Linked DNA regions of Homo sapiens: all the other regions are linked to region 1. The links come from fine-mapping of genetic effects on gene expression. A gene starts in region 1. Each other region holds a variant in brackets. All regions are shown on one strand. Distances are between the middles of the regions.

Region 1 (6,020 bases):
TTCATCCCACGGAGCTCCCTTTGCTGCCCCTAGTTGGCATGTTCTGCGAGGAAGAGAGACCCATGTGGATGCAGTTCCACTGAATGGGCAGTGAGCCAGTCAAGTTAGTGGCCACCAAGACTGTATGGTAGGGAGTGGGGATGGCACCAGAAAGGTGGGGAGGACCCGTGTGTTTGGAGACCATGAGTAGGTGCCTGGGAAGCTTGGACTTGATCCTCTGAGCAATGGGGACCAGTGATTGTAGAGCAGAGGAGAGACGGGATCGCAGAGGTGCTTTCTGTGGAATCCTCCCTCCCTCACGCCACCTCACGCCTTCCCCATTGGAGTTGTTTAGGTGAGGCTTGCTTCTCCTCTTCTGGGCTCGCAGAGCAAGAACTTAGATTTGGCAAAGGGAATTTATTATCTCTGGTCCATCCGCCTCACCTGTCCTTGCTGTAGCTCTAAGATCTTCATGCTACCACATCTCTTCCGCCTTGGTCCCCCAGCTAAAGGCATGCACCCCACACCGACCCTCCCTTTGGCTTCTCATGCCCCTGAAGCTACTCAGATCCCCCAGAAACATTCACATGTCTGGCTCAGGCTTCTCGAAGGATCCGTGGGACTCGTCTGCGGCCCTTGCCCTCTGCCTGCCAGAGAGGAAACCCGCCCAGCAGGCCCATCTGTTGGTCGCCTGCCTTTTCCAGCTGCCTGAGGATTGTGGGGGCTTGGGCTGGGGTCTCTGTCCCCCTCCCCGGCCTCCCTCTGGGATGCTGTAATCTCTTGCCTCCACTCCTTTCCTCCACTGGCTCCGCAGGGTCAGAGACCCCCAAGAGCCCCTCATCTTGGCTGACTGAAAGCAGACTCTCCCCCTGCCTGCACCTGGCAGCCTTGCCAAGTCCTGGAGAGCCAGGGCAGGTGAGTTGGGCTTGATCGGTCCTGCCTGGCACTGGGCCCTCATCCACAACTTGTCTGCCCCTTCAGCAGAGCAGCTTTCCTATAGCCAATGCAGGGCTGGCCTGACATCTCAGCTGGGCAGGGGAACAGTGGGAGGTGACCAAGAGTCCCCCTCCCCAAGAGTGCTGCTGAGCTGCGCCTGCTGCCCTAACCCCAGATTCCTGGCTCCAGCCTGGCCTGCCCTGGGGTGGGAAAGACAGTCCCTTCAGTAGCTCTCTAGGTCCCTGTCTTCCTCCAATGCTGTGGTGTGTGTGAGTGGGGTGTGGAGCCACAGCCTTCACACCAACCAGCCAGGTTCCTCCCAGGCCCTGGGAGGGAAGTCTGTGCTCCTGTTCCTTCCGTTGCACATTCCTTTACAGATAAGGGCTTCAGTTGGTAAAAATGATATATGTACTCAGATCACACTAAGAGAGACCCACTTGTATTGGAGTCAAGAGGCTTAATTTTTTGATCAAGTTGTTCTAATAATAAACAAAAAATGCAATCACCAGGTGAGTGGGGCCTTGCAGACACCCTTTCTCTAGCTCCTGCTTCTTGACATATTTCTCTATTCAGAAGTGACTCCAGAAGCTCATCTGGTTCAGTCCCCAGTTTCCAGGTTTAAGGGGCAGATGGGACTGAGACCAGCGAGCCTGCCTGGAGGTTGAGGTGGGAATCTTTTGGTTTTTTCCATCTTTCTGATCCTGTTTATGAAATCAGTGTTTTTATTACACTTGCCCATTGTCACAGAGAATCCGTGGATAGAGGAAAACTGAGAGAGATGTGGATAAAGGGAAACTGAGGCAGAAAGCAATCTTTGTCTAAGCAGAAACAGAGCTACGACCCTATTGTCTGAAGTCCTTCCTTCTGCCTCTGATCCTGAATAATACAGAACCCAGGTACCCCGTAGCTTGGCTAGCATCCTTGCTCAGGGTTATCAAGACCGATTTGGGCAGGAGCTAGAGAAAGGGTTTCTGCAAGGCCCCACTCACCTGATAATTGCATTTTTTGTTTATTATTAGAACAACTTGATTAAAAAATTAAGCCTCTCGACTCCAATACAAGTGGGTCTGTCTTAGTGTGATCTGAGTACCTATATCATTTTTACCAACTGAAGCCCTTATCTGTAAAGGAATGTGCAACGGAAGGAACAGGAGCACAGACTTCCCTCCCAGGGCCTGGGAGGAGCCTGGCTGGTTGGTGTGGGGGCAGTGGCTCCACAACCCACTCACACCCCACTCATCCTGGCATCTCATAGTGGCCCCCAACCCTCTCCAAATGTTATTTCTCTAAATTCACCATATTGGGGGGGGGGCGGGGGATGGGGAGGCCCCAGGGCCCCAGCCAAGCCCTCTTGACACCTAGAGACGTGCCCCTCTCTGGAGTAGACAGCCACAGAGGTGAAAGGTGATCACCAGGCTGGCTGGGTGAGGCCCCACACATGATTCTAAGACCCTGGGCAGTTTCTGGCTCCCTGCAGTCTCTTGTGGGGGACTCTAAAAATGCAGCTTACCCAGACGGTGGCCCTGCTCCCCTTTGGGGGGCAGCCTTCTCCTGGTGGTGGAAGGCCCAGGAGGCTGTGCTGAGCCACCCCATCCTCTCCCGGGCAGGCAGGCTGCGTGGATGGTTAGCAGCTTGTCGCTGGTGTGGATGGAGTTAAACCTTTTCGGGGACTATTTACTCCTGATCCTAAGTGACAGCTTGGGGAGGGAGAGTCACGTGGCCCTGAAATCCCCGGGGGAGCCGATGGAGCATGCCCAGCTGCCTCTGCCTGGGAAAGATGCTGGATCCTGCAGTAACCACAACAGCATCCTCTCCCTGCGCCAGGGACCTGCCAGCCGGAGAGATGACTGATTAGATCAGATTAGATCCGGAGCCCCGCTCTGCAGAAGGGGGCCCCAGGGGCGGGGGAGGAGGACCCCAGCTGGCCTGAGCTGGGGGGAGGGGTGCCTTGGGGCTCGCAGAGTTAGAGCTTTCCAGCGCGGGGATCACACCTCAGAAGCCGGTGAGTCTGTTTTCATGCATCACATAGATGAGGTGGGAGGAGGAAGGCTGGGCTCTGGTCAGGGCTGGCAGCTGCCTGTCTGCCGCGTGAGCCTGGGCTGCTTGCACTGCGGAGCACTGGCTTCCCCATCTCTCATCCTTGGCAGCCTTACTTGGGGATCATGGATGCTGAGAATGCTAATTATAGCCCTCCCTGTGCCCCCACCCCCACCTCCAGAGTCCCCTGTCAGGGCTGATGCTGTTTAAATTGATTACATTTGAATTGCATCTCCTGGATGAAGGCAGCGTTGGGGCTGGCAGCTTCCTAGGGTCCAGCAGGGGTCCCCCACGCAAGCTAGCACAGAGAGGCCAGCCCACCCTCCCTTTAATCTTGCCAGCAGGAAGGAGAGAGGGAGGGGGTCCAGGGTCAGGCTCAGGTCAGCCCCAGGGACTCACCTTCCTCAGCGTGGGGAGGGGTCAGGGTGTGTATCATTCTTATGAGTCAGAGGTTGGGTCGAAGGGTGACAGAGGCTCTTGGATTCCAATTCCTAGGACGCATCTGAGCTCTGGGGGTCTCAGATTTAGTGGGGAGCTCTTGAAGGAGCTGGAGCCTGGTATGTGGTAGAGGAGGGCAGGGAATGAGGGGATGGCATTTATAATGATGGGACCAGGCTGCAGCCAGCTAAGAGCCTCGAGGTATTGTGTGAGGAGTCTGAGGAAAGGAGGACAGTTGGGGGACTGGCCAGAGAAGGGTAAGGAGGGCTACAGTGGAAGGGGAGGGAAGCGGGGCGAGACAGGAAAGTGGCGGGGGTGGGGGAGAAGGGAGAAGAAGGGAGAAGAGGCTCCTGGGAAATGCTCTTTGAGACAACAGGCCAGCCAGGGCAGGGAAGGGGGCTGTGGAGCCTGGGAGAGCAGAGATGGAGAACCGGGATAGAGGGAGAGCCATCCCCGGGGCACAGGGGTGGGGAGGGAGAGCTGCAGGAGGGTGGAAGGTGGTGGGGAGGAGGCTGGAGCTCAGAGCTGGTGTCAGAGGAGGTTGCAGCCTTCAGGGATTGGAGGCTCTTCCCAAAGCCCTGTAGACCCTTTACCCTCAATCTGATCACTTGAGTGGTGCACTCTGCTGAGGGTCTCCTGCATGGTGGGGCAGGGTCCTGGCTGGCAGGTATCTGCCTGAGCCCACTGTCTGGGCAGGTGCGGGGGCACTGCGGGCACTTGCCCTACAAATCTCCCAAATCCTGTTTTCCAGGCCACCCTGGAAGAGTATGAAACTGAGGAGGGCTCCTGTGGCTAGGACGGTTCAGTCGCCAGCTTTCACCCCCGAGCAGCTGCATTTTAGCTTCAGCAGGACATGAGCAGACCCTGCTGGTGGAGGGGAGGTGGGAGCGGCTAGGCTCTGGCCTGTCTCCAGGTTGGGGTGGCAGGAGGGGCTGAAGGCACCCCTCCTGGCACTGCCACTGGGCTTTCCTTATGGAAACAAGCGAGTTTCTGTGTCTTTGCACAAGGGCACAGAGTGCCGAGCCACAGATATGAATTATTAAAAGTCATTGGTTTTCCAATCAGCGGCGAGGTGATAAATGTGTTAGCACTGGTGTGTAATTAATCCTGGCAGGCTGCTGCACACAGGCTGCAGACAATGGGGGTCCCCACCTGCTTTTTTTTTGCTGGGCTAGGCTTCTTTTCCTCCTTCCTAGGAAGGTGATGGTGCAGGACGCCTTACACAGATAATTACTTTGAATGTGTCTGCCTGGATTATTGAGTTGGATTATTTCTGCTTGTAAATGAAATAATTACTGATCCCTCAGTCAGTGAGGGAGGCAGCCACCTTGGCTCCCGGGCTGACATCAGAGCCCCCACCTCGCCCAGACCCAGCCTGCAGCCTCGGGCTCATAGAGCGAGCTCTCTTGGCCCAGGGGACTGGCCTAGGCCAGAGTGAAGAAGCCGCAACAGCAGATGGGAGCGTGGTGTCAACTGGTGCTGAACAGGCTGCGGTTCCGTTCTCCGAGCCAATTTCCTCATCGTCTTCCTCACTGCCTGTTGTGAATTTGATGAGGTCATTGGCACTGGTCTTGGCGCACCCATGGGGCCCCCCAGAGGAAGGTTGGAGCTGTGCCTCACAAAAGAGCTGCAGGATTCGCACTCCCCTGAGCTCTGGGGTGAGGCGAACGGGCTCAGGAAGCCAGGGCTTAATGAGGGGACTTGAGCAGGCCAGTCTCCAAACACTTAAAGCACATTCAGAGAGGAAAAAAAGACTATATTTTGGGAGACATTTAGAGTAACTGGGAGCAGAAGGAAAAGAAGTTGAGGGTAGGCTGAGTGGAAGCCTTCCCTTGACCATCTGTCTGTTCAGGGGGCTCCTGCTCAGCACCTACAACCTTCAGACGCCCCTCAGAGACTATCTAGTCCAGACTCCCTCCACATCCAGATGAGCCTTCCTCAGCCTCCCTGACAGAAGCAGCAGCCTCACTTGGATAATTTCAGTGACAGGGAGCTCATTACCTCACAAGGCAGCTTCCTCTGTGGCTGGAACATTCTTCTATGTTGAATCAAAATCTGCCGACTTCTAAGTTCCACCCTCTGGTTCTGATTCTTTGAAGCTGTGCAGAACAAGTCACCTCTCTCTTTTACGTGGTCATAAAAATAGTTTTCTTTTGATTAAAATAGTATATAATAGTCCGTGTGTGGATGTAATATATTTTACATGATCATTTCTATATTGGACATTTAGGTTGTTACCTTATTTTCCTTTTACAGATAGCACAAGAGGAACATTTTTGTTCATAAGGCTCTTTCTGTGTTTTGGGTGACTTAGGATAAATTCCAAGGCATAGAATTAATGTGATGAAGGGTGTACATTAAAAGAATTACTATTCTGTGAGTGTAAAAGTAATACATTGTCATTTAAAAATGTAGAAAAACCTAAAGCAAAGTTAAGAATTACCCATAGGTTTGATATATAATTTTAATTTTGGTATACTTGTACTTTTATGAATTCATGCATGAGTGTATGTCTAGATTATCACAATACATATATATCATTAAAATTTTGGCCCAGATGTGTATTATTGTCACTTAAACAGAAAGCATTTTTTCATATTATTAAATATTCTTTAACAGCATTATTATTA
Region 2 (6,020 bases), 78 kb after region 1:
AGTGGTCAGTTACCAAGACTCCTGACTCTGAGACCACCGGCCTTACCCTTTTCCTTAAGGACAATCCACACGCTGTCCATTCCTTGCCATCATGTGCCAGCTTTTTTCACAACTCTCCAGTCCCTTTCCAGATCTCCCTCTTCCTCTCGGGGGCGTCAGGGGAGCTCACAAAGGATCGTCTCAGTCTGCAGCAAGTGCTCTCCTAGGCACAGTCATTTTCTGGCTGGTTCCTTGGGTGGCCCTTGTTCCTAGGCTCCCTTTGGATCCCCCACCAGCAGGCAGCAGTGCAGGGATATCGCTTTGCCCTCAGAGTCCTTGGCAAGCTCCCCAAGTACAGGGGAAGTTCCAGATTCCTTGCTCCTGGCAAAAGGAGGTGTTCATAATTTCCCACAATCCACCTGGCTCCAGCTTACCCTATTACTCCCAGTCTGAGAGAGAACATCAGCTGAGCCCTCCTTGGGGGCCGGAGGCAGAATGGGTCTCCCTGGGCAGGTGAGGAGCAGCACTACATTAGAGCCTGCTGTTGCCCCTCAACCCTTGCTGTGCTACCCTCCAGCCAGGAGGCTCCTGCTCTCCAGCTCTGGCTGGTTTACTGCTTTCCTCTTCCCAGGGCAAAGCTTCTGCTTTGTAGACTCTTATCAGAGTCTGGCTGGCCAGTAGGGAGGGGAGGGACAGGAGGGGGCATGAAGCAGATGCACTGTGCACACTGATCCCGGCGAGAGGGATTTGAGGCTGAGCTCCTGTCTCCTTCAGCCGCTATTCAGCATCCCAACTGGAACAGCACGTGCCCCCTCCTCCAGGCAGTGGTGAGCCTGCTGGCCTGCCCTACAGCTGCTCCATCAAACTCAAACAGTTATTCAGTTCCCCTGTGTGTGAGGTGCTGGGCAGGGGCACAGCAATAAAGGCCAGGCTGTGGACAGTGTTTGTGTGGCTGCCCTTCCATGCCCCTACATCCAGGCAGCTGTTGTCAGACTAAAGTTTGTGGGTAGCCCCCAGCCCACATCACACACAGTCCCCAGACCTGTAGCCCACAGATATTACCAGTGAAAGAGTTTGTGGCTTTCATTACTGTGTTCTTGGAGCAGACCTTGAAAAGCTGGCATCTCCCCCTGAACCATGAAGCTCTCTCCTGCTTTCCTAGGGGCAGGGAGCTCAGATTGGGTGCATCGCAGGAACAGAAAGAAGGGAGCCCAAGACTCAAATTTTTCTGACCTCTCCTGTCACTATAGCTGGGACAATGCACCTCAGCTTCCCTGATTCTAAAATGGGCCTTCCTTGCCTCCCTCCCAGTGTAAGGACCAGAGATTGCATGCGTTTTATTTTTCTCTTCATTCCACATGCCTTCAGAGCATCATAACCTTTCTTCCTCTGCTCTCTGGTCCAGTGGGAGATTTGTGTTGTCTGCTCAACAAGGCATCACTCAATACCATTGTTTTACTGTTAAAATGAGAAAACTAAGATACCAGACAGCTTGATTCTCAAATTGCTGGATTGGGAACCAAGAAGGCACTGGTAGCTTTTGAGGATGGGGAAGGAGAGAGATCAGCCAGCTTCATAACTCTCCAAACACCCACTTTGTAAAATTCCTTTCGTTGGGTGGGGCAGGGTGGGGTCGCTGCTCTCCGTAGGACACCAGAAGCAGATCTGCTGAGTTAGGGATGCAGAGACATGGTTTCAATGACCTTCCATAGACCCGGCGGCGGACAGCTGGGCTGCCTCAGCCACTGAAGGGCAGGGGTTTGAGATTCAACTCAGAGCTGGAAGGCGGCGGGGCGGTGGGGGGGCATAATTAATTATTGCCCTGCCCTGTTACCCCTTGGGATCCGTTCCACATTGCTGGCTGTCAGGAGAAGGCAACTTGGAGGCGAGGGGGCTGGGGCCTTTTTTCTCTGCTTCTGTCTGGCTTAGCTACTGAGGAAAGGCTGAGAGGAGGAAAACCCAGAGCTGTAGGCAGCTGGTTCTCCTTTGAATTCCCCCTCTCTTTAGAAGGGAACAAGAGCACACAGCACAAGGAGGAGCTCCAGGGAGCTGGATTGCCCCAGTTCTCCAATTTGGGTCAGGGTGAAGGAGAAAGTGTCTCCCAGCCTGCCCATGGCAGCTTCTGGGTGGTAGAATCGCAGTTCCCCACAATTGGAAGACACTTCAGTGTTGAGACAGTTAAGGACTGGCTGTACCCGGGAATGATATTCAATAATTCATCAACCAGAAAGGATGCTGGCCTGGAGTCTTGGAGGGCCCTGTGGTGCCAGGCATTAACTCTTTTGTCTCTGGGTCATGGAGATGTGAGGAGGTCTCAGACCCTGGCCCAGAGATGGGGCAGGGACACTCGAGGGACTTGGGGGAGCAGCTTTTCACCCACCAACATGGAAGAGCTTCAGTATTTGAATCACTGGCAGAGTTATGCTATCTACTCTGGTTGTCTTCATTTTTCAGCAGACAGATGGAATTCCCTAAAGTAAAACAACCAGTTTAAAGATGAACCAAGCTAGGGTGGGAGGTCAGGATGAAGTTCCCCTGTATAGTATCCATGTTTTCTCTCATGCACACACACGTGCGTGCACACACATGAGCTTGAACCCGTTACCCTGACTGAAGTACACCTTGTCCTCCTGCCCTCAGTCTGCCATCTTAGGCCTTCCTATCTCCTCTCATAGGAATAAGGGACCACCCAGGCCCAGAGCAGGGGCTGGGAGACACTACAGTGAGAAAATGGGGGAAGGACAGCACCTGAGCTGGAAGGGAAGAAACCTGGACCTGGCCCCCTGATTTGTGATTTCTCTCCCTTGTCCACGGAGCCATCTCTTCTATCTTCTGCCTGTGGTGGGAGCTGAGCTCACGTAGAAGGCCCCCAGCCTTCCATAACTGCCCATAACAGGTTTTGGGATGGGGCTGGGGGTGCGGTGTGGCTGGGCAGAGTGAAGCAGGAA[A/C]GGGAGCAGCATGAGTCTTGTCTCCTAGACATGCAGCCGAGTAGCTTAGAACATTTCAATAAACTGGCTTGGGGCAGGGAGGTACCATCTTCTTGACAGTTTGGAAATAACTGTGGCATCAAAGGGGGGATGAGCAAGGGCAGAGAAGAAAGGTGAAAGCAAATACAAGGCTGGGTGACAGCCACTGGCAGCTGGTTCCCAGCACCCAGAGAACTGGTATTTTGATCTTCAAGGAGCACATGGAAGAGAGACAGTAGGGGTTGTTGTTTTTAGAGACAGGAGGGTCTTGCTCTGTTGTTTTTTAGAGACAGGGGTCTTACTCTGTTTTTTTTGTTTTTTTGAGACGGAATCTCTGTCTGTTGCCCAGGCTGGAGTGCAGTGGCGCAATCTCGGCTCACTGCAAGCTCCACCTCCTGGGTTCACGCCATTCTCCTGCCTCAGCCTCCTGAGTAGCTGGGACTACAGGTGCCCGCCACCAGGCCCGGCTAATTTTTTGTATTTTTAGTAGAGACAGGGTTTCACTGTGTTAGCCAGGATGGTCTTGATCTCCTGACCTCGTGATCTGCCCGCCTCTGCCTCCCAAAGTGCTGGGGTGACAGGTGTGAGCCACCGCCCCCGGCCTTTTTTGTTTGTTTGTTTTTGGTTTTTTTTAGAGATGGGGGCCTTGCTCTGTTGTTTTTTAGTGACGAGGGTCTTGTGCCTCAGGTTGGGGTGCAGTGGTGTGATCATAGTTCACTGCAGTCTCGACCTCCTGGGCTCAAGTGATCCTCCTGCCTCTGCCTCTGAGTAGCTGGGACTACAGACATGTGCTACCATGCCTGGCTAAGGCAGTGTTGTTTGGAGGGGTTCCTTCCCACCTGCAAATACCTAGAAGTGCTGCCAGGGCCTGACCCTCTTTGACCTCTTCTTTATGTGGCAGCAATAGGTAGGAAAACAGAGGGCCTCTGATGAGAAGTGGCTAGGAAAGTGTATTTTCTCCTGGAAATGGCAGGGGGAGCTTCAGGAATCAGGTGCATGAAGATGGCTGGAAACATAAACTGAGTTGGTTTTTAATTGGGACAGGATGCTGAAGCAGATAAGCCTCCTTGAAAATAATGATGAGATCCAGATGGGGAGGCACAGAGCAGGAGCCAACCTTCTCCCCACCTTCCCCTCCTCTGTGGCAGCAGAAATCCTCTCTGGAGCATGGACAGTCTCGGCTTGGAATTTGCTAGCTGGGAGAAAGAAGGAAGTGGAAGGGATGGGACCCCCTTTCCACTTGCCTTGCATGCAAACCTCTCTCCACCTAATGAGCTGTAATGCTGGAAGCCAAGGCGTCCTCAGGATGGGGAAGCTGGGCCAGGGCTAATTCTTTGTCAGCAGATTCTCAGGAGCTATGGAAATGAAGCAGCTTGGTGTACAGCAGATAATCAAGAGAGGCCCAGTGGGTGGAAGGAGTGGAGTATTTCTCCAGTCGTTCAATATTGATCACAGTGGGGTTCTGGGCATCCAGCCTGGGAGTGTGTGTGCATGTGTAAACATACATGCCTGCAAAAGATCGTGAAACTTGGATTAATTTTGCCACTCTTGACAGTGTAGTGCCAGGTATACTGCACGTGGAGGCTGACTCTCCAGGGGGATGTTTGGAGATGAAGCAATGCAGAGTTATCTCTATGTGAGGTACTGTAGGGGTTGAGGATGTCTCTTGAACTACAGGAAAGCTTTAAATAGGTGCAGAGACAAAGGCCTGGAAAAATAGAGAGGATCTGCTTCTTTTCTTTGTAATTTATCGCTCTTGAGACTTCCAGAGTGCCTGCCCCTGGCACTCCCAGCCTGTGCCCCATACACGATCTTCTTAAGCCTGGGACTAAGTATTTTTCATTTTTTCGCTCCTTCATCTGGCATATATCTTAATTTGTTTTTAAGTAGAATGATCATAGCCATTATCTCTTCTGCAAAAAATGGTCTATATCTTGCAAGTTTACAGCTATTATTTCATAGAATTAGTGTCTGTGCTGGTGAAGTGAGCACTATTATTTCATGTAGTTAGAAGGTACCTCATTTACACATGAGAAAACTAAGGGCCCAAGAAATAAAGTCATATTCCTAACTCAGGTTGGATCTTGGACTGAATGTTTGGTCCTGCCATGTTTGTTTCCACTGATGGCACTGCCATCAGGGCCACCCTCATTGTGGATAAGTGACCACCTACTGGACTGCTCTGGAGTTTAGGGCTGTTTCTACCTCCACCGCACAATCTCCTTTACCACTTGAGATTTTCCCTTCTCTTGGGTGGAATTTGAAAGGTCCATTTGGGTATGTATTCATGGATTCATAATCATTTGTCCTTGACAAATGGAAGCCTTTTGACATCCCAAAAGGAAGGAGAGAAGAAGGAGAAAACGGATTACCTGTCCTTGTTTCCCTTTTTAATGTTCTGCCTCTTGTAAGTTCTTCTTGATGTCTAACTAAAATGAAAATTTGCCATACTCTGCAGTTTATTGGCAAAGGGAAAGAACTGCTGCTAGACATTCTGTGTGCAGACTTAATTCCTAGGAGTTCAGAGCTCTTGATGAGCAGGGGAAGCCCCTGAGCCTTCCTTCGTTCCTACTCCCTTGTGCTATCTTTACAGGGCATAGGAGAAGTAATTTAACTTGCAGCTTAAGCAAAGGCTGTGGGAGGCCCCTGAGCTCAGCTTGAAGTGAAAGGGGATATTTTTGCCTTCTAGAGGAAGAAAGCTCATTTTCCCAAAGCGCCCCTACCCCCTCCTCCTTCTGTGCAGATGAGCTTAATTTTCTTCCCGTCCTACTGAAGGTGGATCAAAGCCAAGCTATGTATTCAAGGGGGAGCTAGGCAGGGAAGCTGAGTGAGGGGGCGAGGGGGCAGAAGCAAAGCTTCTCTCATGGAGAGGAAGTAATTAATTTTAAGAGAGAGCTAAGATAGGGAAGCCCTCGGTGATAGAATGTCAAACTCCAAATGCAGGTGGTTAAAAATTAAGTCAGGGCTGGAGAGTTTCTATTATTCATTCATTCAACAAATATTTATCGAGCACCTGTTATGTATGGGCAGGAACCTCAAGCCGGCATCAGGAGAGGGCCCAAGAAACTGGATTAG
Region 3 (6,020 bases), 34 kb after region 1:
TTGGGAGCCTGAGGCTGACGGATCACCTGAGGTCGGGAGTTTGATACTAGCCTGACCAACATGGAGAAACCCCATCTCTACTAAAAATACACAATTAGCCAGGCATGGTGGTGCATGCCTGTAATCCCAGCTACTCAGAGGCTGAGGCAGGGAAACCCGAGAGGCAGAGGTTGCAGTGAGCCGAGATGGTGCCATCGCACTCCAGCGTGGGCAACAAGAGCGAAACTCTGTCTAAAAAAAAAAAAAAAGAAAGAAAATTGACTGTGGGTTGGGTGCAATGGCTCACGCCTGTAGTCCCAGCACTTTGGGTGGCCGAGGCGGGAGGATCACCTGAGGTCGGGAGTTTGAGACCAGCCTGGCCAACATAGAGAAACCCCGTCTCTACTAAAAATACAAAATTAGCTGGGCGTGGGGGTGCATGCCTGTAATCCCAGCAACTCAGGAGGCTGAGGTAGGAGAATCCCTTGAACCCAGGAGGCAGAGGTTGTGGTGAGCCGAGATCACGCCTCTGCACTCCAGCCTGGGCAAGAAGAGTGAAACTCTGTCTCAAAAATAAATAAATAAATAAATAAATAAATAAATAAATAAATAAATAAATAAAATAAATAAAAGCAGCTTCTTTCCTTTTTATCCCAGCCAGGGTCATCAGAAAGCAGCCAGGGCTCCAGCTCTAATTTTGAGAATAATGAGGTTTTATCCAGAGAAGTCAGGGAACTGGCTTTCAGAAACACAGTGAGTCAGAGGATATGCCTCAAATGGGAAAGGAAAGCCAGCCATCCCAGCTCTCTGATACCTGCCCTGTCCTTTCCTTAGGAATGGGAGCAAGTGAGAAGAAAGGAGAGAGGATTGGGGTTTGGCTTATACTTGCTCTTGTATTTTTCCCTTTTGGAGGCCTGGGCTGTCTCTTGCCCTTGAGACAGGCCCCCTGAGTCCTTGGTCTAGAGAGCCAGGTGGCTGTGCCTCCTCCCCAGGAGCTTGTGGTCCCCTGGGGCCTGGCACAGCGCTCGCCCATCTGCCCATGCAGATCAGAGATGGAAATCTGCAGTTAGACCATTGGACACCACAACGTGCATGGACAGATGAGGAAGTCTGCTTGCAAGGTGCCAATCAACGACGGGGCTCTCAGCGCTCTCCTGGGCCTCAGCGGGCCAGAGACTGCAGGCCAAGAAGGGGCTCCCAGAAGGGGCCCGTCGGCATCAAGGCTCACTTGCCCTGTGCTAGTTCCTTATCGCTGTCTACTTCCTGTACCTCTCCACATGTGGGGCACTAGAGACACAAGACACCCTCTGTGGGCCTTGAGAGGGAGACAGAAAGGAATGGAGCTGGGGATAAATCAGGAGTGAGGCCTCAGCGCCAGGTGGGTGGGAGAGGTAGGAAGGACAAACAAGCAGGAAGCCCTGGTACTGCTTTCTTGGGCATTAAACGAGGAAGAATGGTGCAAAGTGAACAAAATGAAATACTGTATTTCTGTTTCACTGGGCTCGCGCCTGTTACATCCTTGAGCTACTTCTTTTGCTGGGAGTTCAGCCTTGTGACTCAAGCATGTGAGCAGAGAGTGGCAGGGTTTCTATCCCAGGAGGAGGAGGAGGGGATGGAGAGAGACTGGGGAGAGGCTGAAACCCAAGTAGCTGCTTTGTCCACAAATCCCTACTACAGAGGCTGCCGTACCCAGCGCGCTTCTGCCTGGACCACTCCCTGCCTAAGTGCGGAGGCCCCAGGGTTTGGGCAGTGAGCAGTTCCTCACCCTATTTGGATCATATAGGAAGGAGGGAGCTAGTCTAAGGATGATGAAAGGCAGTGAATGCTGAGTGAGGTCAAGTCCTAGTGCTGAGCTCCATACTGGCACACAGAAGGCACTCATAAAATATATATGGAATGAATGAATGAACCAACCAACCAAGGAGAAGGAAAGGGGTTTGATTACATTTATCCTCCGACTCTTAATTCTCTAGCTTAATCCCTAGCAGTCAGATTTAGGGCTTGGACAGCAAAAATTATTTGCTAGAAATGTGTTGTGAGAGGGTGTAAGGCTCAATGATCTATCACCTGGAGCACTGCTTTGTGAATTAATTAACCAGGCTTTTGGTTCTCTTCTTTCTCTTTTGTCTCCATGCCTCTGTGGTGCTCACTTGGGTTTGGGAGGTGGCATGGACTGGGGCAGCCATGCAAAGTCTTGTTAGAATGAGAGCTGGGAAGCCTCTGTCTATCTGTGCTCTCATGGCCCTTTTTGGGTTCTGAATATGGGTCTCGATTGTCTCTGTTTCTTTGCCAGTGCTTTGCACATAGTGGGCACTGATAGAACATTTGATGAGCTAAGACGTGACCGTGTGTTGGCACAGGCAGGAGGGAGAAGCTTCACTCTCCTGGCTGGTTGGGTCTAAGGGAGAGAGGAGCTGAGTGTCTACTTGTGCCCTCTGGTCTTCACAAACTGAAGGGCACTGTTGGAGCCGGGCTCTGTTTCAGCTGGCAGAAGGGGGCATGGAACTGGAGCTGCCCTCAGCCATGGAGAAAGTTGGCCACAGCAGGACTGGACACGTGGAGTGCTCAGAGCCTGCCTCACAAAGCAGCTTAGGAGAAAATTAAGTGGTCTCAAGCCAGGGGAAGCATGGCTCCCTGTGCTGGATGCATTAGGGAGACGGCTGGGCAGGGTGAGGAATGGGGCTTGCTGTGGGCAGAGGGACTCTGCCCCTTTTGTGTTCAGCCCAGTCTATATGTTAATGGCAGCCCAGCGGTGCTTGGCTTTGGCAGCCTGGAAATGGCAGCTACTACTTCTCCCCATGCTGCCCTTCCACCCCTTGTTCGCCTGGGCCCTGAGATCTCTGCAGGACTAAGTGACCTTAGGGACAGGCAGAGTAGAGTCTTGCGCCAAGGCCTCCTGGGTTTGTTCACAGGCTACTCTAAGAAGCCACCAATAAGGAACTTTCTCAGGGCTCAGGGTCCTGAGCACCTTTAGAAGTTTCTAATAGGATTTTGTCTTCCAGATAGGAAGGAAAACCCATCCAGATCTTATAGAGGAACCAAAGCCCAGCGAGGCAGGTACTTGCCCACAGTAACGTGTGTGCTGAGGGCTCACCAAGCAGGCAGCTGGGCATTCGGGCTCCTAGTCCTGGGACCTGAGCTCTCAATATTTCTGAGCATGAAGATCTCATGTGGTGCCCATTGGTTCTTTGTCAAACCAGATATTTATTTACGTGAGTTCTTTGGTAGGACAACCAATTTTTCTCAGTGTGCCTGAGACTGTCCCGGTTTGAGCACTGAAAGTCCTGGGCAAACTGGGACAGTTGACCACCATGTCCCTAAGGATTCTCCCCCTGGCAGCCCTCTAAACCCAGTTTGCATTTCTCTTTATTGCTTTAATTGCAGGAAACATTTCTTCCTGGCATTCGTTTTCTATGGGCTGACCCCAGAGAGCTGAACTTGTAGATAACTGGGAAGTAACGTTGCCTACCCAAGGTGCCTGACACTAGACTTTCCTATCTCTCAGGAGCTCTAAGACAATCAAAATAGTTGCATCTCTCTAAATGCAATTGGGGTAACTGAAGTACAGTGTGGAGGTGGCTCCTGCCTCTCCCTTGCTGAAAGCTCTGATCAAATTCTGTATTCCTGGGAGGCTGAGGCAGGAGAATGGCGTGAACCTGGGAGGTGGAGCTTGCAGTGAGCTGAGATCACGCCACTGCACTCCAGCCTGGGCAACAAAGTGAGACCCCATCTCAAAAA[T/A]AAATAAATAAATAAATAAAATTCTGTATTCCTGCATCTCCTCTCTTCTAAGTAACTCAGGCATCATGTGATCTCCAGTCTCCTTTATCCAACACAGTCCCTAAGCCAAAGGACAAAGACACAAACAGGTGACCCAATACCCTTTTAATGAATGGAGAAACTGATATCTATGGAAGGTTTAGTAAGCTATTGGCCTCAGGTCAGATAAAAACACCAGGATCCTAATCGACTTCCAATTCAGCACCTTTAGACATAAAGCCTTCAGCTTTTGTGACTTCTGGAATAGTCTCTCCACTTTCACTCATTTCTTCTGAATTGTATCCCTCTCAGATAAGACTTTGTCAGAGAAACTCAACCTCAGAGAAAACTGTTTCTAAGTTCTCTTCATTTGGTTCCTTTCCTTGTCTTATTGATGGTGAGACATTTCTGTCTCATCACGAGCTGCCTCTCTAATGGGGGCTGCAAAGTAGCCAGAGCTGGAGTTTCCTATTGCCCAGCCCTGCCCTTCGTATCCTATCCCATAAAGGGCTTATTCATTGAGGCCCCTTTCTTTATCCTATTTATAAATCTTTTCAGCATGTCTTTGTGCCCAGTGACAAACCCTATTCTATCCTCTACTTCAGCCTTTGAGATACTAAAAATTTCCTTCCATCTTCAAAATCCCTTCACGATCCATAGCCCTGACTCTTACCAGGGATGCCTGGCAATCAAAGTCAGAGCAATCAAAGTCAGATTCTGGGATGTGGACCCCAAAGAGGGCTCCTGAAGTCCTCGTGCAGCTGAAACACATCCCTACTGGCTGGACTTTTACTGCACTTCATCATAGCTAGGAGTGACTCATGCAGACTCAAGCAGAACCTTGGGGCCCAGGGCAGAAGTGTGACTTCAGGTCTCACTCAGCACTCATCAGAACACTCACTCAGTATGCTTGTAATTAGAATTGAGTGATCTCATGGATGAACTGTACTGGGCTAACTTGAAGAGCACAGCTCTGGAGTCAGTCTGCCCAGGTCCTTTCCAAGTCCTGCCACTCCATCCTCAAGCAGGATATTTAACCTGATTTTGTCTCAGGTTCCTCATCTTAAAACAGAGGTCATAACAACAACCATCTCAAAAGGCTGTTGTGAAGATCAAATGAGTTGCATTTAGAATTATGCCTCACACAAGTATGCACTCAATAGATAGCTATTATTATAATACTAGGTAGCTTACACCCTCTGCCATTTACCTCTCTAGTAAGCTGTTTATTCATTTGACAAACACATACTGAGCACCTATTATGCACCAGGAATACAAGTACAACCTTGTTGAAGCTTTCCAGTTACACAAGCAGTTTATAATGCCCTCTAATTTCACATTAGCTTTCTTTCTTCCGAAATGTCCATTTGGCTGTGACAGCAGTTGAGAAGTCATCACTTTGGTCCCATCTAGCTCTCAGTGATCCTAGTCTGCATGTTGTGGGGCAAAGGCCACTTGCCTTGGGAGTCAGAGGACCTGAATTTCTATTGATGATTCAGCTGGTAACCAGCTGGGATCTATTGGACAGGTTGCTTCATCTTTTCTGAGCCTCAGTGTCTCCATCCTACCTTGAGGGGTGCTGCGGAGATAAGATGAGATAACGATGCAAAAGACCTATTAAATGTCAGGTGCTAGGATGGAGCAAAGAGAAGACAGTCCTTGGGAGAGTGCCCCATCTAAGTGCAGAGGGGGGCCTCCCCCAGGCAAGGCTCTGAAGATAATTAACATGAGTGCAAGCTCCCGGAGGGCACTGAGTGTCAGGGCCTAGCACAGTGTGCTGTGGCACATAGTAGATACACAGTTAATGCCTGCCACATAGCTGTAGACCCTTAGCAAATGTTTGTCAAATGAATAAATGTGACATAAATGGCTCTAACCAATGTAAAAGCGGGGAAGGCATTAAGTTCCAAGGAAATGCAAAGCAAAGGGAAGGTCAGGTTTGGGCATGGTCTATCAGGGAGGGCTTCCTGGAAGAGATGACTTAGATTTAGGTTGGGAAGACCTTGCATCCACAGAATGATACGCCATGGGACAAGAAGGGAATTTGCAAAATGCGTAGGGCCAGTTAGCTTGGTTGGGGTGGGAAGAGTGGTCCCCAGAATAAAAGGAGTAGGATAGGAGTTTACATGGGCAGTAGCTACAATTGGGTTTTGAGAGAGTAAACACTTGGTTGGGGGAATGTGGAGGAGCATGTGTGAGGAGTGTGATTATGGCTGGTGCAGAGTAGACCACAGGAGGCCCATTATCTGCTGCCTGCCCATTAAGGAAAGAATCCCAGCGGCTGA
Region 4 (6,020 bases), 52 kb after region 1:
GACCTGGAAGTTATAACCCTGTTTAACCAGGAGAGTTAACATTGACATTGATAGAAGTAAGGGTGAACTTAGATGGGGAGCCCATTCATAATTGATTTTTGTTTTTTCACTTGCATGCATAGTAGTCAAACAATATAGAAAAGTATTCAGTGAAAGTCTCTCTCTCGATCTATCTCTCATCTATGCCCAGTCCCCTCCTTGGAGAGGATCACTGTTACCAGTGTCTGCTACATCCTTCCTGAGAGGCTGTAAGCTAGGGGTCGGCCAACTGTGACCCATGGGCCACATCCAGCCCACTACCTAATTTTGCGTGACCCTTAAGCTAAGAATGGGGTTTATATTTGGTGCTGAAAAAAAAATCAAAAGGAGAATGATGTTTTGTGACACATGAAATTCAAATTTTAGTGTCCACAAGTAGAGTTTTATTGAAACATAGCCACACTCATTCATCTATGCTTTTTTGTTTCTGCTCATTTGTTTACTTATGAGTGGCTGCTTTTGCACTATGATGGTAGCATTGAGTGTAACAGGGACTGTATGGCCTACAAAGCTAAAAATATATATCTAACCCTTTACATAAAAAGTTTGCTGACTCCTGCTCTAGGCAAATATAATATTGGTAGTTAACATAAATTATTTCTTAGTCCAAGAAGCATCATACTAAATTGATACTATCTTCATTTACCATATCTTGTACAGTTCCTTCTCAATATGGTCATGCATTACTTAATTTTGGGGCTACATTCTGAGAAGTGCATTTTTAGGCAAGTTTGTTGTCATGCGAACATGACAGTGTACGTACACAAGCCCAGGTGGTATAGCCTACTACACACGTAGGCTTTATGGTGTAGCCTATTGCTTAAACCTGTACCGCATGCTACTGTACCGAATACTGTAGGCAGCTATAACACAGTGGTATGTGTGTACCTAAATATAGAAAAAGTACAGGAAAAATGCAGTGTTATAATCCTATGGGAACACTTTTGTATATGTGGTCCATCGTTGACCAGAACGACCTTATGCGGCGTGTGATTGTACAATGATATATTAGTCAGTGGGTGGTCAATCTTAATTTGATTGTAGCATGCTGAGTTTAAGGTTCAGTCTGGTTACCCTCAGGAAAATGCTCAGTAGGTGGTTGGGCTCATGGGACTGAAGCTTGGAGCCTGGAGGTTGAGATGCGGGGGAGACCTGCAGGGAGTCTTCAGTGTGAATCTGTCTATGACCTCAGCCTGCACGTCAAATATTTCCCTTAACAGAAATGAAGCACTACATGCTGAGCACTGTACAAAGTAAACTATGGATGTTAATAGAGTGACAGAAAGACAATGAATGAGAAACATGAAACCAGCCACTGGAGGAACAGTAAATACTACAGGCAATTTAGAATTACCTTCTTGAGGCCGGGCGTGGTGGCTCACGCCTGTAATCCCAGCACTTTGGGAGGCCAAGGTGGGCGGATCATGAGGTCAGGAGATCGAGACCATCCTGGCTAACACAGTGAAACCCCGTCTCTACTAAAAATACAAAAAAATTAGCCGGGCGTGATGGTGGGTGCCTGTAGTCCCAGCTACTCGGGAGGCTGAGGGAGGAGAATGGCGTGAACCCGGGAGGCGGAGCTTGCAGTGAGCCAAGATTGTGCCACTGCACTCCAGCCTGGGCGACAGCCAGACTCTGTCTCAAAAAAAAAAAAAAAAAAAAAGAAAAAGAAAAAGAATTACCTTCTTGAGTCAGCTGGCGACTGGAGGTAGTGGGAAGAGCAATGGGCATTTACTGAGTGCCTACCATGTGCCCCTGTATACATGTTACCTTATTTACTGTGACTCAGATGGGATCCTTAGCCTCATTTTACAGATAAGGAAACTGAAGCTCAGAGAGGTTAAGTGATTTTTTTTTTCTTGCAATCAGTGGTCCAAGTGAGTATCTAGTTGTATTAAAGCATGGTTCCAACTGACATTGATTGATTGATTGATTGACAGGGTCTCGCTCTGTCACCCAGGTGGGAGTGCAATGGCATGATCATAGGATCATAGCTCACTGCAGCCTCGAACCCCTGGCCTCAAGCAATCCTCCTAAAGTGTTGAGATTATAGGCATGAGCCACTGCCCAGCCCATCTGACTTGTAAGCCTCTTATTTTCCTTCTACCATCCAAGATGCCGAATCGGGCTGGGAGTCACTCCCTGGCTTTGCCAAGCCATGTCATCATCCTGGCCTCAGCTCTCTTATCTGCAAAATGAGGCATTTGTTACAATTGCTACAGTCCCTTCCTAGTCTCACCTGGCCTAATTCTATTATGGGTGGAAGCACAAAAGAAAGGGGAGCTCCATAAGAAGGATATGCAGAAAATTGGGAGAGGTGAGGAAGACAAATTTAGCCATTTATATATGTCAGACCCAGTTATCTAGAATCGGATCCTTAGGAGAATATTCCCTAATATGGAGGAATAGTCTCAAAATCTCTGCTCTTAAGCTGCAGACTTGCCTGTTGCCCTTATTGCCTCGATCCTGAGTGCCACTTAAGCACCTGGACTTGAACTGCTGGAGGGGTTGGGGCTGGGAGAGACAGTGGAGAGCACCTGGCAGGGCTCTCTCCCAGTGCCTGCACCTCTGGGCTCAGCTCCGCTGGGCTAGCTCAGCTTAGGGTTTCAGGAGTTGCTGCAGCTAGAGGGCTGTCTGATGTTTCCAATGAGCAGGCGGGGTAGGGAGTGAGGGGAACGCGAGGGCGGGTAAGCCATCAGACCCGAGGAACTGGGGGTGTGAGTGTGTTTATATAGGACTTGGCCAACCTGCAGTTTCAGATTTCAGAGCCAGCTTTATTGGGAGATGTTCCTTAGGTTTTCAGTTAGCGCTGGAGCAAGGAGAGAGCTGACACCAGAGTCTTCCTGGAAGGCTGGGGGAATTCTGGAATCCCAGGCTCTCTCCCTGTCTCCTTCCTTCTCATGGGCAGTGCATCCGCCACCCTCGGCAGCTTTCTCCGATCAGAAGTATTGCTTCACTCCTTCTCAGTCGGCAGTCTGCGTCTCCCAGCTGGGTCCTGACATCTGGCATGGAAGGTAAAATCTAGGGTCCTGGGGATCTCCGCTAGGAAGATCTGGGGCCAGCCAAACTTTCAGTGGAGAGGACCCGGGAGAAAAACTCACATGTTGGGCAAAGAGCAGTATTTCACAGTAAGGCAGATATGAATGAGTGTGAGTGTGTGAGAGTGAATGTGTGTGAGTGTGTGTGTGGTGCAGGTACTTCTGTTAATAGTTGGGAAGCAAATCTTTTACCTGTTCTTCCTCTTTCTTTTACCTCTTCTTCTTTTCATTTATCCCTTCTTTCTCTTCTAGCAAATAAGAATATTGC[A/G]TAAATGTTCATCTTCCTCGGGGTCTCTCATTAAAAAGTTAAAGAAAATATCTAATTTCTAGAAGGTGACTATTTTCTCCCTTGGGGGTAGGGGGCTGCAGAGGGAATTTAGAGACATAAGTACAACCCATGTGTATCCAGAGGACTGATGCCCCTAGGGTAAGCCCTGGATTTTGTAGGTGCTTAGAACACTTGTTTTTTTAATTTTAGATGGTGGGGGATGGTGTACATGTACAGGTTCATTACGTGGATATATTGCATAATGCTGAGGTTTGGGCTTCTGTTGAACCAGTCACCCAAATAGTGAATATAGTACCCAATAGGTTTATCCCCCATTTTGGAGTCCCCGGTATCTATCTACTGTTGTTATCTTTATGTCCTGGAACATTTCTTATAAATCTACCTGTAAAGCTGTCTGTTGGGAAGGTGAGATCCTTATGCATTCCAGCATGGTCTCCATGTGAAATTAGCTTGAACCAACCCAAGGGATCAAAGCTATGAGGGGCAAGTGGCAGGAGCACTTTCTTCTCAGTGCCTCAGAATTGGGCAGGATGGAGGCCAAAGCCTTGGAAGAGGGGGAGGAGGAATTGGCATTTTGCCTGAAAGCAGAAATTTGGGCGAGACAGGTGATTGGTGGATGGTGGGTAAGGCTGGCTGAATGTGGCCCCGTCTTCCTAGGGTTTGTGTGGTGTTTCTTGGTGGCAAGGAGCAGAGATCAGAGAACTGCCTTGTACAGGGGCTGGTGGGTGGGCAGCCTGGCCTGGCTGCCATCTGAGCAGTCACTGGTCCTGTGGGCAGCACATGCTGTGAGGCAGGATCTCGCAGGAATGGTGGGTGGCCCAGACTCAATGGGACAGAGCCAGAGGCTGGAGGTGGTTTTTGAAAAGCAGATTTGGGGTGGTGAGATATACATTGGAGGAGGAATGTGGTGGAGAAAGCTAGAGAAAGAATATGGGGTGGATGGAAAGGAACAAAAAGAGGGATTGGGGAGTCCTAAACTCTGACACATTCCAAAGCTGCAGCCAGGCAAGTGATCTCAACTCTCAATGTCGATATAATCCAGAATAGGTGAGAAAACCACCGTTTGCCTACTGACTTCTGAATATAGTGGGAGAAATGTATGAGAGGTGATGCGGGATGGGCAAAGTGCAACAAAAATACATTTTAAGCCTAAGAAATCATATAGTACAATGGAATTTAGAAGGCAATCACACAGCCATTTATTAGGCAATACAATTAATAGGTTGTACAGTCTGGTTATTTTTGAAACTATGGGCATTAAACATTTTTTTATTTATGTCACCACCTACTTCCAAATAGAATTCATAGCATCTTTATGTAGTTGGTAGATGCTGCTGTGCATAATTTTGGCCAAAAGAGTGTCATAATTTCTTCCTTTTGTTCAATTGTACAGTGCTTTGCAGCTCAGACCAAGTGTGCTTTCATACCCACACTCCCATTCTAGCTCAATTTAGCAGGTGTTTACTGATCCCTCTTCTTCCCTAAGCAGTGTGCTAGATTTTGAGTATAGAGAGATGGAAAAGAACTGGATCTGCCTTCAAGGGTCTCTCAGTTTACCTGCAATCCTGTAGGGAAGATGGGAAAAATATTCCTACAATATAGATGAGGAAACTGGAGCCAAAAGATGCTGCTATGGTTAGTCAGCAGGAGGGATGGATTAGAATCCAACTCCTAATCCAGCGTGCCGCAGTACTGCATGCACCTCCCTCTACCCCACTGCCCAGCAATGCACGCACTTTCCTTTACCTGTTCATCCCCCATACTTTCTGCATCAGAGTAATGAGAAAGAAGCAGTGATAGGGAAGGCAGAGTGGAAAACTGCTCCCTGGTATGGAACCAGTCCTCTCTGGGCCCCCTCATCGTGCAATTGAAATGGCATCACTGGGTCTATGTCTCTGTTACGTTGCCAATTTGATGCTCTCTACCACGCACCAGAGGCATACTTTTTTTCCTCAGGTAATTCTTGACTTGGAGTAGATTGCCTTCTTCTCTATTGTCCCTGAATTATTTGAACAGGCGAGGATATGGTAAAATTCAGGGGCTCACAGAAATTTAAGAGGTTTCAGTAGGGTGGTAGATGCTCACTGGACACCTGCTTTATAAAATAACAACCAATGTTTGTTCAGTGCCTTGTAATTGACAGAGTGCCTTTAATATAAGTAAAGAATAGTATGTGTATTAATTTCCCCCTCCCTTCCATACCTGCCCTACTCAGGTTTTCTAGAAGGTCTGAATCCCAAAAGCGTAGGATCTTTCTCTTAATTTTTAGGCTCAAGCTAAAAGGGACATGGAGCTGTCTTCTGGCCCAGTGATTCCCAAGTTTTGGTCTGTGACAGAGTTTTCACCAGTCTGAGGTAAAATAAGAAAAATAGGGAAAATTTACCAATTTTTTTCAGAAAGCAAAATGTATTAGAAGACATCTTTTAGGGGCAGGAGATGTGCTGAAATATTTACTAGCTTATCCTTTTTCAGAGCTGATGGTGAGAGTAGATGGTAATCAGGCTTTTAAAATATCCTTATTTAGCAAAATTAAAAGTTGACAATCTTATATTGGTTGTCCCTGATAAGGCCACTTTTGGGGCAGATTTCTGAAAACTTGAATTCTGATCTTGTCACTACCATCTTTCCCTGCGGGTCTTTAGAATGTGATAAAC
Region 5 (6,020 bases), 97 kb after region 1:
TTGGATAAATCATCTAACCTCTTTGTGTCTCAGCTTCCTTACCTATAAAATGAGGGTAATAATAGTACCTCCTCATAGGTTTGTTGGGAGGATTAAATCCATGAAGGCATTTCACTTAGAACAGTGCCTGAACGCTTCCAAAATATCAGCTGTTATTTCTTTGTTTATTTGTGCACTAGAATGCAAATTCCTTTAGGGTAGGCACTACTTCTCTCTTACTCACCTCTGTAGTCCCAGTGTCTGGAACAGCATCTCCAGGGCCACCACACTCCCTAACTCCAGGGAGTGTCCTCTCGGAGCATGTGTGGTGGCCCTGAGTGCCTGACAAACAGGAGGTGAACAACAAATATGTATTGATATTTATCAGGGAGGGACAACACACTCCTCCCCACCCCTGGCGCACGCACACGCTTGCACACACACACACACACCCTTCTTGTGCCTCTCTCCCTGACAGATGAGAAGGAAGAGAGTATCCTGGGCAGCATCCCCCTCCTGAGCTTCCGGGTAGCCGCAGTGCAGCCCTCAGACAACATCAGCCGGAAACACACGTTTAAGGTCAGTTGGCCTTCCCTTCCCAGGGCAGGTGGGGAAGGAAGGCCTGCTCTTCTAGAGCCTATGGGAATGGAGAAGGGCCAAGAGCCATCGCTCTAAGGAATCCCAGGTGGTGGTGGCCATAGCAGTGGTGGTGGGTTGGGGGAGGAGGAGTAGTAATGGCCCCTAGACTCAGCACAGTCTCTTGTAAGGCTAGAGCAAGGCTATGCTGGGACCTTCCTCCTCTCTTGGGGGTTGGGTGGGCAATTCTCCTAAGAGTGGGCCAGTAGAGATGTGTTTCAGCAGCACCACAATTGTTACTGGGGCAGGAATAGTTATGTTCTTAGTCCTTGGACTTTTTGCCCAGTTCCTGCCCCTGGGAAATCCCTCTGGGCAGAGGCAGGAGCTGTGGCTGGTGGGTTCTGAGACCTTTTCTGGAAAGGCTTCCTCCCCACCGTGGTTTCAGGAAACTGGACCTACCCCCAAGTCAAAGTTACTCAAATTTCAATCTTTAACGAATATTAGAAGTTGAGTTTCATTCCACAAGAGCTGCAAATCTTACGAAGAAACCATTTGAGAGAACAAGTGCACAGGAACATGGGCCTTTCCTGCCTGCTCAATATCACTGCCTTGAACCCCTGGGGAGCCACCCGTTAAAGATGTGCCTGCAGCTGGCTCATCCTAGGCCAGTGTTTTTCCACGTTTAAAAAGTCACGACCCATCAGAAACTATAAAAATCTCATGCCCTTTCGTATTTTATGATGTAAAAATCATAGGTCCCTTTTCATTTTCCAAATATAAAATTATAATACCAACCACACATTTTCTTGGTACAAAGCCCTCTCTCCCCTAATTGACAATTGCTGTCCAAGACCCTTCAAAGCTATGATATTAGATGACTGGATCTGTAGGTCACTCCTTGAGCTTCTAGAGCCTTAGAAGAAGGGACTCTGTCCCTTCCTGTCCTTCAGGCTCCAGTCACCTGGCCACAGAAGAGAGCTGGGCAGCATGCACAGGGCCCGCTACAGGGAGCAAGGAAGGACTTATTTGGCACATAATTAGTTTCCAGCCTCCCGGGGTCTTGTATGCCAGAGGTGTGAAGAGAATGAACAATTAATAAAGCTCTGACTCCAGGGAGCCAGTTCTAGCTGGGGAAATAGGAACAGGCTGTTTAACCAACAACAAGTAGTCCTGTTATACACAGACACACACACACACACCCACACACACAATCAAACAGCCTGTCTCACCCTCCCCACCAGACCTGTGCAGAGACACAGACACGTTCCAGCTCGGAGCTCTGCCAGCAGCAGGCGTGAGATAAACATCCCCGAGTGACTGACACACTCCCTCCACCACAGATCCCAGATATCACCTCTCTGCCCACCAGCCCCTCGCCTCCTTCCCCCACACTGCGCTGCCTCTTTTAAACCTGACTCTGAGGGCTGTGCTCGGTGGCCCACAAAGGGTTCTGATTGTGGCTATTCCATGGCCCTTCCCCAGGGAAGGGAGGGGAGCTGAGACAGATGGGAGGCTTGTCCTGTTGTGGCCACCGAGCGAAACTCTTGGATGGCTAAGAATGAGCCAGGAACTGTTCCTGCCCAGGCTACCGCTGAATGCCTTAACCTCTCCCTAACTCTGGCCCCACAGAGGCTCCGGGGGCTTTGCCCCGCTGGGACAGCTCCCTCAATTCTCTGGCCCCCTTTCATAGTTCCAGGCCAGCGCCCCTACCCACTCCCCATCAATGGCCCTGTCTTTTCCCAGGCCCTCTGCCTTCTCCTGTCACAGCACTTGTCCCTGTGCCTCTGCTCTCTCCTTGTTTCCCGCGGCATGTTTTGTCCCCCAGCGTGACTGTCAGCTCTTCAAGTGCAAGAGCCTGTCTTTGCCTTCCTTGTGACTGGTGCCCCCAGCGAGTTCTGCACACACAGGCTGCTCCCTGGATGCTCATTGAATTGATGAATTCATTTGCTGCCCGCTCCCACCCACCCCAGGACACACCCACGAGCCCTGCCTGTGTGTCTCCGCTCTACAATAACCCTGTGTTCTCCACCTAGAAGGCTTGCTTGGGCCCCTGGTCTCTCTATCCCCTATCCGTCGCAAGTCTCAGCTTCTTAGTCTTCACTGGCTTTTTGTCAACACCTCCCCTGCCCTCTCCCACACCTACATGCTAAGCCCTCTGCTGGAGGGTGGGGACCAGAGGAAGGAGGCCCACCCCTGCCTCTTGCTGGGTAATGGCTCCTGTCAGAAAGAAAATGAGGGCTGGGGACAGGTGGAGGCGAGGTGGGACCAGCTGCAGCTGAGGAATCTTTTGAGCATTTAGAGGGTGTGGGCTTGACGTTGCTGTTCAGGGGAGCCCTGAAGCTATCTCAACCCCCAGAGACCCAGGATTTAGGGCTCAAGGGGTCAGAGGCTGGAGTGAGGCTCACATCCGAGACTCTGAATCACTGCTAGATGTCCCCTGTTGAGTGGGCTAAGCTAGGCTACTGAGGATCTCACTGGGAAGTGTGCTGAGGTCCCAGAAAGCATTTAGTCCTGTGGCCTCTTTTCCTTGTGGCCTAAGAACTTTGAATTTCACCAGGCAGACTCTTTTCCCGTGAAATAGATGCATCAGTGAAGACCAGAGCAAAACCACAACTTGTCTGCAGTTGCAGAGCTGGTCAGGAGCAGAGCCAGGCTTAGCACTGCGATTCCCTGACTCACTCTCCACCACCAGCCTGAATTTCCCTGGTGCAAGCTCTCCACTCCCCACCCCTTGGTAGGCAGAACTGGGCATTGTTGGGTGCTGCCATTCCCGGGGGAATGCTGAGTAGAAGAGGACAATCTGAATATTCCCCCTTCCCTGTGCTCCTCACCGTTTCCTGCCACGTCGTCTTCTGTCTCTCCCTTTGGTGTTTGGTTGACCTGTTCTCTGCTTCTCCTCCTTCTGACC[G/A]CGTGAGGACCCCTCCTCTGGACAGGAGCTCTCTTCTGGGTTCCCGCCCGCAGTACCTGCTCGCAGCCACCAACTAGGTAGTGTGCCCCATCTGTATGCCAGTGCCTGCTTTGCATGCCTGCAGAGAGGGGCTTGGCTGTCTCTCCACGTGGAAGAGACAGTGCTAGCTTCTCAGCAGTGAAGCTGGGGCTAAGATTGGCATGTGCTCAGGGGGTCCTCTCTCCCAGACATGGGGTCATTGCCTTTGAAATCAAACATGGAATTTGCCGGGAGAATGGGTGTGATCATTGTCCCTCCTGCTTTAATTACCCCAGGTGGGGCAAGTAGGCTGACCTGGTTATTGGGCTGCCTAATGGTGCCCAGAGAGCCAGCCAAGGTGGATACGTGGGTACCAGCTGGAACCCTCGGGGTAGCTGCAAGCTGCCCTCTTCACCTTGCTCCTGAGCTCCGCATGGGGAAGAGCCCCAGGTGCAGGGAATGGCCCAACTGACTGCCCATTCTGTGGGCGTTGGTGTCTTCTCCCAACAGGTGACTGTGTGCTGGGTGGATGAGGCCGAGGCCAGCTCCACACGCTGCCTCTCCCCACAGGCTGAGCATGCCGGGGTCCGCACCTACTTCTTCAGTGCCGAGAGCCCCGAGGAGCAAGAGGCCTGGATCCAGGCCATGGGGGAGGCTGCTCGAGTACAGATCCCTCCAGCCCAGAAGTCAGTGCCCCAAGCTGTGCGGCACAGGTGAGTGCCAGGGAATTGAGTGTGGGGGTGCAGGAAGAATAAAGAGGGGAATGGAAGACACACCCAGCTCTGGGCCATTGCTAATCCCAGTGTGCCTACTTGAAGCCCTGGAGAATGTGTGAGCCGTCTCCTTGCATCCAGGCGGGAGGCCTGGCTGAGTGATTTCAGAGCCTGAAGTCTCTCTTCCCCTAGCCAGCTCCTCCTCTTCTCTCTGAGCTCGGGAAGGCCAAGAGAAAAGCCAGGTTCCATTGGGGTCTGGCCAGGAGCCAGAGGTCAGGGTCATTTGCTGGTTTTTCTCGGCTGTGTGTGTTAAGCACACCGCCTTTGGAGGAAAATAAACTCAGGTTTGAATCACACCTTGTCCACTTGGCTGTAGCGTGATCTCAGTGCAAGGGACTCACCCTCTCTGAACCCGAGGTTCCTCTGCTCAAAAACCAGCAAATACAACTCTACCTCATAGGGTTGTTGTGAGGCCTACACAGAGTGCGTGTAAAACACTCAACATGCAGTAAACTCTTAACATATGGCCGCTCCCATCGCCCGCCGTCACCCACGGTCTCAGCGTCTGTCTCTCCCTTAACTGGATGTGGAGTCTTGAGTTAGGTGCTAAGGGGGATCCAGGAAAAGGGGGTTTCACAGTGTAGGCTCCAAGTCCACATATCTTAGAAATGTTTACCAAGCAATGTTTCAACAATCCCACTTGAATATGTGGAGTTTGGGAAGCTGTAGGGGGAAAATTGTCACAAATTTCCATCTTCGCTTCAACCAAGGGGCATAATTCCAAGAGTTCATTCATTCATTTCACAAATACTTACTGTAAATATAAATGTGCAAGGCACTGTAGTGGGTGCTAGGAACACAGGGGAAGAAAGTCTGCCATGTTCCTACCCTTGTGGGGCCTGTATTCTCATGGAAAGTCAGTCCTGGAAGAAATGTGTTTTGGAGAAGGGAACTAGCGTGTTTATGTGCTTGTGAGTTTGAAAGCAGAAACTTCTGCTCCTGGTGCCCGCCATGTTTTATCTCACAGCAGTCCTAGGAGGGGAGCTATTATTATGCCCATTCTGCTGATGAGGAGCCCAAGACTCTTGGCAGTTAAATAACTTTCTATAAGAAAGACAGCTGCCCCGTGACAAGCCTTTGTCACTGGAGTATCAAGGACAGTTACTGATGTGAGTGCAAACCCAGTTTGGGGAGCTGGGTCAGGGATAGATCGCAGAGAGGACCAAGACTAGGTGAGGTTAGTCATGCCATAGCTTGAAGGCTGGGCTCAAAGCAGACTGACAGAGGGGAGTGGGGTGGAGAATGACCTGCAGAGAAGACGTGGGGGGCAGAGTTAACACAGCAGGTGTGGGCAGGGGCGGATTAGGTTGTATAATAATTTCCCAGGCTGGAGCGAGAAGGTGAAGGGGTGGGACTTAGGAAGCAGAACTGGAGTTCATAGAATCCTGGTTCCAGCCACCTCCCTGCCCATCCTTCCCCACTCCTCTTCTTCCCAGTCTGGCACCCCCTGCCCCACTCCATGCTGGGCTAGAGTCACTGACAGCATCTCCCTTGGCATCCTGCAGCCATGAGAAGCCAGACTCGGAGAACGTCCCACCCAGCAAGCACCACCAGCAGCCACCCCACAACAGCCTCCCTAAGCCTGAGCCAGAGGCCAAGACTCGAGGGGAGGGTGATGGCCGAGGCTGTGAGAAGGCAGAGAGAAGGCCTGAGAGGCCAGAAGTCAAGAAAGAGCCTCCGGTGAAAGCCAATGGCCTCCCAGCTGGACCGGAGCCAGCCTCAGAGCCGGGCAGCCCTTACCCCGAGGGCCCAAGAGTGCCAGGGGG

Which allele goes with the higher level. Positions count from the first base shown, and alleles are read on the strand shown. Sizes are in standard deviations (SD) of each study's normalised expression. Not every link is listed here.
For the expression in thyroid of the gene that starts at base 2,682 in region 1, A is the high allele of the variant in region 2 and C is the other (small effect, 0.33 SD a copy in GTEx).
With allele A in place of G in region 4, the expression in skeletal muscle of the gene that starts at base 2,682 in region 1 is lower (small effect, 0.38 SD a copy in GTEx).
With allele A in place of G in region 5, the expression in cerebral cortex of the gene that starts at base 2,682 in region 1 is lower (moderate effect, 0.43 SD a copy in GTEx).

What was found. PIP is the estimated chance that this variant, and not a neighbour inherited with it, causes the effect.
Region 2: its variant is the best candidate, but not a certain one, in a credible set for the expression of PLEKHA6 in thyroid (GTEx, PIP 0.57).
Region 3: its variant is the best candidate, but not a certain one, in a credible set for the expression of PLEKHA6 in whole blood (TOPMed, PIP 0.74).
Region 4: its variant is the best candidate, but not a certain one, in a credible set for the expression of PLEKHA6 in skeletal muscle (GTEx, PIP 0.62).
Region 5: its variant is the best candidate, but not a certain one, in a credible set for the expression of PLEKHA6 in cerebral cortex (GTEx, PIP 0.78).

The regions. Positions count from the first base shown.
Region 1 is chr1:204,356,591-204,362,610 of GRCh38, reverse strand. It overlaps PLEKHA6 (pleckstrin homology domain containing A6), which reads left to right and starts at 2,682. Exons shown (of 23, transcript NM_014935.5): 1 at 2,682-2,917. RefSeq lists enhancers at 2,794-3,429, 3,545-4,471, 4,472-5,399.
Region 2 is chr1:204,278,772-204,284,791 of GRCh38, reverse strand. The region is part of intron 1 of PLEKHA6 (pleckstrin homology domain containing A6); the gene reads left to right. Among named protein-coding and RNA genes, the nearest start is that of GOLT1A, 68 kb to the right of the region's middle. RefSeq lists enhancers at 288-787, 788-1,289 and a silencer at 1,874-2,077. The variant A/C (reference allele first, on the strand shown) is at 2,928.
Region 3 is chr1:204,322,628-204,328,647 of GRCh38, reverse strand. The region is part of intron 1 of PLEKHA6 (pleckstrin homology domain containing A6); the gene reads left to right. Among named protein-coding and RNA genes, the nearest start is that of PLEKHA6, 34 kb to the left of the region's middle. The variant T/A (reference allele first, on the strand shown) is at 3,718.
Region 4 is chr1:204,304,370-204,310,389 of GRCh38, reverse strand. All of the region lies in intron 1 of PLEKHA6 (pleckstrin homology domain containing A6), which reads left to right. Among named protein-coding and RNA genes, the nearest start is that of PLEKHA6, 53 kb to the left of the region's middle. RefSeq lists an enhancer at 5,843-6,020. The variant A/G (reference allele first, on the strand shown) is at 3,346.
Region 5 is chr1:204,259,480-204,265,499 of GRCh38, reverse strand. It overlaps PLEKHA6 (pleckstrin homology domain containing A6), which reads left to right. Exons shown (of 23, transcript NM_014935.5): 6 at 458-558; 7 at 4,052-4,194; 8 at 5,760-6,020. Among named protein-coding and RNA genes, the nearest start is that of GOLT1A, 49 kb to the right of the region's middle. The variant G/A (reference allele first, on the strand shown) is at 3,464.